Linked DNA regions of Homo sapiens. The protein of the gene in region 1 interacts with the protein of each later gene in a pairwise test. Each region holds a gene or a part of one and is shown on either strand. Other genes may lie near its edges.

What was found.
Region 2: the proteins of SNX9 (region 1) and OCRL interact in binary tests that used the Homo sapiens proteins (3 or more experiments, as listed by UniProt).

The regions. Positions count from the first base shown.
Region 1 is NC_000006.12:157,896,197-157,899,948, reverse strand, and holds part of SNX9 (sorting nexin-9), read right to left. Parts: intron 3,123-3,752; coding exon 2,951-3,122; intron 1-2,950. UniProt on the Homo sapiens protein: Involved in endocytosis and intracellular vesicle trafficking, both during interphase and at the end of mitosis. Required for efficient progress through mitosis and cytokinesis. Required for normal formation of the cleavage furrow at the end of mitosis.
Region 2 is NC_000023.11:129,571,244-129,574,995, forward strand, and holds part of OCRL (inositol polyphosphate 5-phosphatase OCRL), read left to right. Parts: intron 1-3,752. UniProt on the Homo sapiens protein: Catalyzes the hydrolysis of the 5-position phosphate of phosphatidylinositol 4,5-bisphosphate (PtdIns(4,5)P2) and phosphatidylinositol-3,4,5-bisphosphate (PtdIns(3,4,5)P3), with the greatest catalytic activity towards PtdIns(4,5)P2.

The DNA.
Region 1 (3,752 bases):
CCACACACACACCCACAGGCACGCACTTGCACATATACACGCGCACACACACACACTTAGGTAATCATGTGAGGTGAGGGATATGTTAAGCGCTTGGCTGTAGTAATGATTTCAGTATATACATGTATATTACAACATCACGCTGTATACCTCAAATATAGATAATTTTTTTTTTGAGACGGAGCCTCGCTTTGTTGGCCAGGCTGGAGTGCAGTGGCGCAATCTTGGCTCCCTGCAAGCTCCGCCTCCTGGGTTCAGGCCATTCTCCTGCCTCAGCTTCCCGAGTAGCTGGGACTACAGGCGCCTGCCACCACACCCGGCTAATTTTTTTTCTATTTTTAGTAGAGATGGGGTTTCACCGTGTTAGCCAGGATGGCCTTGATCTCCTGACCTTGTGATCCGCCTGCCTCGGCCTCCCAAACTGCTGGGATTACAGGCGTGAAAATATAGATAATTTTTTTAAAGGGCTGTCAGTCCACATCACTTCAGATAAATGCAGACTGTAAGAATGTTAAGTGGTACACAGTAGAAAAGACTTCTAGAGGCCTAGACACTGATAAATCTAGTCTTATACATTTACAAATAAGCAGAATACCCTTTAATTCTAGAGGCTTGGGGAGGACGAAAGGGACGACAGAACTTTGAAAAGCAGCTGTTTAACACTAACAATAAAGGGGAGAGAAGGGCAACGAGGGGGACATTAAAAAGACCGAGTTGGGGTGTGGGAGAAAAAGATGAGAGTGAAGAAGTAATTAAGCAGCATCAGTAGCTACTATTCTGACAATAATCCCCGTGTCAGATAAGGTGCTGTGGGCTCTCCTCCTTCTCCTTCCTCCCCTGTGGGCTCTCCTCCTTCTCCTTCCTCCCCTGTGGGCTCTCCTCCTTCTCCTTCCTCCCCTACTCTAACGGCCTGAGTGTCCTTTAGTGTCAGGTCCTAAGAGTGCCATTATGGAGAAGCCGAGAGACAAATGCCAAATGGGAGAAGAACAAACTATGAGAAGGATGTGGGCCAAGTGACCAGAGAGCCAGACCCCAGGAGTCTCCCAACGCTTCTACCCAGCCCACACCCCTGGTCCTGCTGACAGGCAGCTCCTGTCTATGACTGCCAGCCTTCAGCCGGGACCTGCACCCTGCTTTGGGCTTACAAGTGAGGTCCTTGCTGTTTAGAACAGACATTCAATTCTTGGCCCAATGTGCTTACAGAGGAGACAGGGTTCAGGAATTGTTAAAAAATAATGGGAGACTACCTTCTTATTTAATTTCAGATCAGACATAAATACCCTTAATTCCCAAATTATTTCCCATTCCACACATTTCTCTTCTGCCTCAGTATTTCTATTCATAGCCTAGTCAAACAGGAAGTTAAAACAGTGAATGCAGAGGTCTTAAACCAGCAGGATGAGCCACATCCCATCCACATACACGTTTCTGGCTCAAGATTTTAAAACAAACGTGTTAGCTGCTGAGATGTTAAAATCAGAAGGTGACAAATAACCAAGACTTCTCATCTCTCTGAAGATGTGGAGATCAGAACGTGGGCTCAGCTTCCCTGCAAATGCAGTGATCCACGGGCGACAGCAGGGGCCCTCAGCCTTCTGCAGCCTCCACCGCCCATTCTGCTTTTACTTTACCAACCCAGCGTTTGAATCTGTGACTTCACACAGATAAGTAAGACTGAACTAAAGTTAGAGTTAATGACCATCTACAATTGAATCCAGGTTTGCTACTAGTGAATAAGGGCAACTGCAAGCAGTTCTTTTGAATAAAATCTATTTTCAACTCAATGACCCAGAGTGGTATTGTGAGGTAAGAAATAGCCATCTGGTCTGCGTCCCTAGTTCCCGGCACAGAGCTCCTAAAACTCTTGTAACTTCCTGAATGTTAGGTGTGCAAGGTGTATCTTTTGTTCTGATATTTGGTCTCTGACCCTGGCTCCTGACACAGATCTCCTAACCCTTGGAATTTCCCGGGTGGTAGGAGCATCTTTTGTTCAAATGAGGTGACTCCTGGTGGGATGGGGGCTGGTCAACAGAAGGACCAAGCCAGGATTAGAAGCTTGGAACTTCCAGCTCCACCTCCCATTCTCTGGAAAGAAAAGTGGGGCCAGAGGTTGAGTTAATAATCAATCATGCCGGCCAGGCATGGTGGCTCACACCTGTAATCCCAGCACTTTGGGAGGCTGAGGCAGGTGGATCACCTGAGGTCAGGAGTTTGAGACCAGCCTGGCCAACATGGTGAAACCTTGCCTCTAATAAAAATACAAAAAATCAGCCGGGTGTGGCGGTGGGCGGTGGGCTCCTGTAATTCCAGCTACTCAGGAGGCTGAGGTGAGAGAATCACTTGAACCTGGGAGGCGGAGGTTGCAGTGAGCCGAGATTGTGCCACTGCACTCCAGCCTGGGCAACGAGAGCAAAACTCTGTCTCAAAGAATAATAATAACAATAATCGATCATGCCTATGTGATGAAACCGCCGTAAAAATCCTTGAGCTACAGGAAAAGAGATTCTGGGGTGCTGAACATGTAGGGGCACCTGGGGCAGGGGGGCATGGAAGCTCTGCGTCCCTTCCCCATGCCTCGCCCTATGCATCTCTTCATCTGGCTCTTTATTTGCATCCTGTAAATTGAGCTTTGTAATAAACTGACAGTAGTAAGTAAAGTGTTTCCCTGAGTTCTGTGAGCCGCTCCAGCAGATTAATTGAACCCAAGGTGGGAGTGGTGGGAACCCCCTTGATCTGACTCCAGGTAGACAGTGTCATGACTGTAGGACACTCAGCTGGTGTCTGCTGCACAGCTGCTTGGTGGGTGGGGCAATCCTCCCTTCCCATGCTGTGGTCACAAAACTGTTCTGTGTTGTGCTGAGTGTGGGAACAGCAAAAACAGTTCGGTCTTCCCTGTCTCTCCCACTCAGCCATGGGCGGGCAGGGTGGGACCTTGCACCCCTCTCCTCACCTGGTCCTTGGTAGGCCTGGGGGTGGCCGAAGGCAGTGTCCCAGTTGTTGGGAGTGTTTGTGTTTCTTTGGGCTCCAGCCCCCTCTGGCTGGGCCCCCCAGCCTTCTGAGCTTTCCCAGTTCCCAGATTTGGAGGCACTCCAGGCTGACCAGGGGTCATTGCCACTGCCAACCTATTGAGAGGGGTAAAAAGAAGGAGAATTTTTGTGACTTTTGGAAACCATGACTCAATTCAATAATGAACTGACACAATTGAATACAACAGGAGTACTAAAAACAATTAATAGAAATGTATTCAAAACAATTTTACATACATAATATTTTAATTTCCAAACATGTAGGAAAGCACAAAAGGTAGCATCAATCTAATTTTACTGATGTGAACACATTTTACCGTATTTGCTTAGGAACTTTGAAAACAGCAACAAAGAAACTATTAGATGCAGCTACAGCCCTCTCTTTCTTTCTCTCCAGAAGTAACCACTACTTTTCTGAACCTGTATCCATTCCTATGTGTGTTTTCATACTTCAGCTGCACATGTACACATTCACAAACAACTGCTTTATATTTTTAAAATTGACCTAAAGGATGTCATACTGTATGTATCTCTTTGCAAGTTTTCTTTTTCCCACTCAACATGAGGACCTATTTCTAACTGCTTTATAGCGATCTGTTGTATTTTTAAGTAGGCTTTTTAATTTGAAATGGAATACATGTATAATAAAAAAAATTCAAACAATAAAAGTATATGCAATTTGAGAAATACGCCTAACATCCTGAGATGCTAGTCATTCTAAGGAAC
Region 2 (3,752 bases), on another chromosome or scaffold:
AGGGTATCTTTCCTCAAACACTAACCTCTTTGGTTAGATCAGGTATGCCTGGCTTTTTTGTTTACATTTCTTTTCAAAACCTTCAGATTTTTTTGTTTGTTTTTGTTTTTTGTTTTTTGGTTTTTTTTTTTTTTTTTTTGAGACAGAGTCTCGCTCTGTCACCCAGGTTGGAGTGCAGTGGCACGATCTTGGCTCACTGCAAGCTCCGCCTCCTGGGTTCACGCCATTCTCTTGCCTCAGCCTCCCGCCCAGCTAATTTTTTGTATTTTTAGTAGAGACGGGGTTTCACCATGTTAGCCAGGATGATCTCGATCTCCTGACCTTGTGGTCCACCCGCCTCAGCCTCCCAAAGTGCTGAGATTACAGGCATGAGCCACCGCTCGCAGCCAACCTTGGGATGTTTTTAATACTCCATACACATTAATGCAGAGCTTCTAGTGGGATATTTACATTTTTTTTCAGGCTTCCTGTGTATTTATGTATATCTTTAATAAAGATATGCCTTTTGAGTTTTTAATGATTTTTAAATTATACAGCAATGACAAGTGCTTTTAAAAAAATTAAAAGGAAATTTAAGCAGAATTGACAGATAAGGCAGAAGTTCTTCAATCCCTGTTCTGTCTCCTACTCCCAACTTTGCCTAAACCCCCATTCCCCAGCCAGGCCACTACCCTTAGGAGTTTATATCTTTCTAGACCAGTGCTGTCCAATAGAGCTTTCTGTGATGATGGAAATGTCCTGTATCTGTGCTGTCCAGTCCAGTGGCTTCTAGCAGCAGGGGGCTATTGAGTACTTGAAGTGTGGCTAGTGCAACTGAGAACTGAACTTCTAATTTAATTTAATTTAAAGTAATTTAAATTCAAATTCCCTATGTGGCTAGTCACTATTGTACTGGACAGTGCAGTTCTAGACCTTTGTATATGCTTTTTTGTTCACTCATAGACAAAATACTGATTTGTGTGTGTCTCTATATCATAAACGGTCTTATATGTATGTGTTGGTCTGCAACTTGATTTTTTTTTTTAACTCAGCAGTGTGTCTTGGAGAACCTCCCATCTTATTACATAAAGACCTAGCTCATTGTACTTTTTTTCAAATTCCTAATTTTGTCAGTAATTTCCTTTACTAAAATGGATGTGTCAGGTTGTGAAATTCTTTGGGGTTCCCCCCCTCCTCATTATCTTTGATTTGCCATTAAGTGCTGTGATCATGATAACCCGCTGAGAAAAAGTTTGATTTTATTGAGTAATCACCCCATGTTTTGGATTCTTGGGCATGCTATGATTAGAGGCTTTAAAAACCACACTATATTTTCACCACCATTGGCACCAATGACTGTTAACAAAGGAGCCAAGTGCACCGTGGCCAATTAATTTCAGAAGACTTTCTGTGGGCTGGCTGAGATAGAGCTAGGATAGGGTTCCAACCCTGCACTTGGTACTGTGATCTGTTGCATTGGTTCTCAGACTTCAGTGGATGTAAGAATTGCTTAGAGAGCTTTAAAAAAAGTGTGGATGCATGTGTCCTCACCCCTAGAGGCTGTGATTAGTAGACCCAGGCAGCTGTGCTTTTAAGACATACTCAAGTTGATTCTGTCACATATCTAGTATATTGGAAAGAGTCTTAAACTAGTCCAGATGTCACCTTTGGTATTCACTGTAGCAGTGAGCAAGTTTGTTGATTGTTTTGTATCTTAATGTTCTCAACTATCGGAACAAAAATATTCCTTGCTTTGGTAGCCTTCCAGGTTGTGAAAATAAAAAGACATGTGCAAAATACTTTTGGAAATTAAAAGTTGCAAAGTTTTGTAAAAGTATAAAATTCATCTTAAACTAATGCTATACTATGGACCCTGGTGATGGTAAAGTGATTGTTTGATCCTCGGTTCTCTAAGAGTTACAGTTCAAATATGTGAAAAACTTCCCCAGTCTGAGATACTTGACTCAGCTTTGATGTTCTTATTTTCAACATTTTAAAAAATTTTTATTTCACTTCAAGTTGTGGGATACAAGTGCAGAACGTATAGGCTTGTTACATAGGTATGTGTGCCATGTTGGTTTGCTGCACCTATCAACCCATCATCTAGGTTTTAAGCCCCACGTGCATTAGCTATTTAACCTTAATGCTCTCCTTCCCCTCGCCCCACTACCCCGAGTGGCCTGGTGTGTGTTGTTCCCCTCCCTGTGTCCATGTGTTCTCATTCTTCAACTCCCACCTATAAGTGAGAATATGCGGTGCTTGGTTTTCTGTTCCTGTGTTAGTTTGCTAAGGATGATGGCTTCCAGCTTCATCCATGTCCCTGCAAAGGACATGACTTTTTTTATTTTTTGAGGTGGAGTCTTGCTCTGTTGCCCAGGCTGGAGTGCAGTGGTGCAATCTTGGCTCACTTCAACCTCCGCCTCCCGGGCTCAAGGGATTCTCCTGCCTCAGCCTCCCAAGTGACTGGGATTACAGGCACCCACCACCATGCCTGGCTAATTTTTTTTTTGTACTTTTAGTAGAGACAGAGTTTCACCGTGTTGGCTGGGGTGGTTTCGAACTCCTGACCTCTAGTGATCCTCCTGCCTCGGCCTCCCGCAGTGCTAGGATTACAGGTGTGAGCCACTGTGCCCAGCCTGATCTCATTCCTTTTTATGGCTGTATAGTATTCCATGGTGTATATTTACCACATTTTCTTTATCAAGTCTTATTATTAATGGGCATTTGGGTTGGTTCCATGTCTTTGCTATTGTAAGTAGTGCTGCAGTAAACATATGTGTGCATGTGTCTTTATAGTAGAATGATTTATATTCTTTTGGGTATATACCCAGTAATGGGATTGCTGGGTCAAATGGTATTTCTGGTTCTAGATCCTTGAGGAATCGCCACACTGTCTTGCACAATGGTTGAACTAATTTACACTCCTACCAACAGTGTAAAAGCGTTCCTACTTCTCCACAGCCTCACCAGCATCTGTTTCCACATCTTTTTAGAACCTTTGCTGCATGTATCAATTTTTTTTGACATGAATTTTTGTGAAATTTCCTAGTCTAAAAAAGAAACCGATATCTCAAGTTAAAATCTGTTAGTTATGTTAATTTTGGCATTGGTTTGTATGAAGTTTTAATATTTAAAAAAACACAGCTATATCAGGAAGCTGAAAGTGCTGTGTCAGGTGGAAAATTTTTTTATCAGTGGAGATGTGTTTATACGTTGTCATGGTTTTACTCTAGTCTAGGACATTTTGTTTCAGCCATTTTCTAAAATGGCTGTAGGTTCCATTTATTAATATATCTCTGCTATTATGTAATCTGAGCAGTGATATTATACTTCTTGGTATTGTACATAGAATCTAATAGAGTTAAAAGCTTTTTAATAATATTTGCTGCCACCTCACCAAGTTATGATTGTTAGAAACAGTAATTGCTGTGTTTTGACACTGTCATTTTGTACAGTGCAAGCAATCATTTTTACCACAATTATCACATTTTTTCCACTACCAAATAACTTAACAATGAAGCAAGAAAATATTCTTCCCAAATATTTATTATTACCAAGCTTCTTAACGTAGGGGTTTAACTTTTACAGGACGTTAGCCAATTAATCTTACCTTTACCTTAAAGCGTGTGCTTCTATAATGCTTTGTTCAATTTATGTTTGCTTTAGTGACCTTAAAAATTGTTAGAGACTCTTGGAGGTATAAAAGTTGAGAACACATAAAACTAAAGCAAGGATCTGTTTTCTTTCAGGTGCAAGCTGTGGATGAAGCAAGA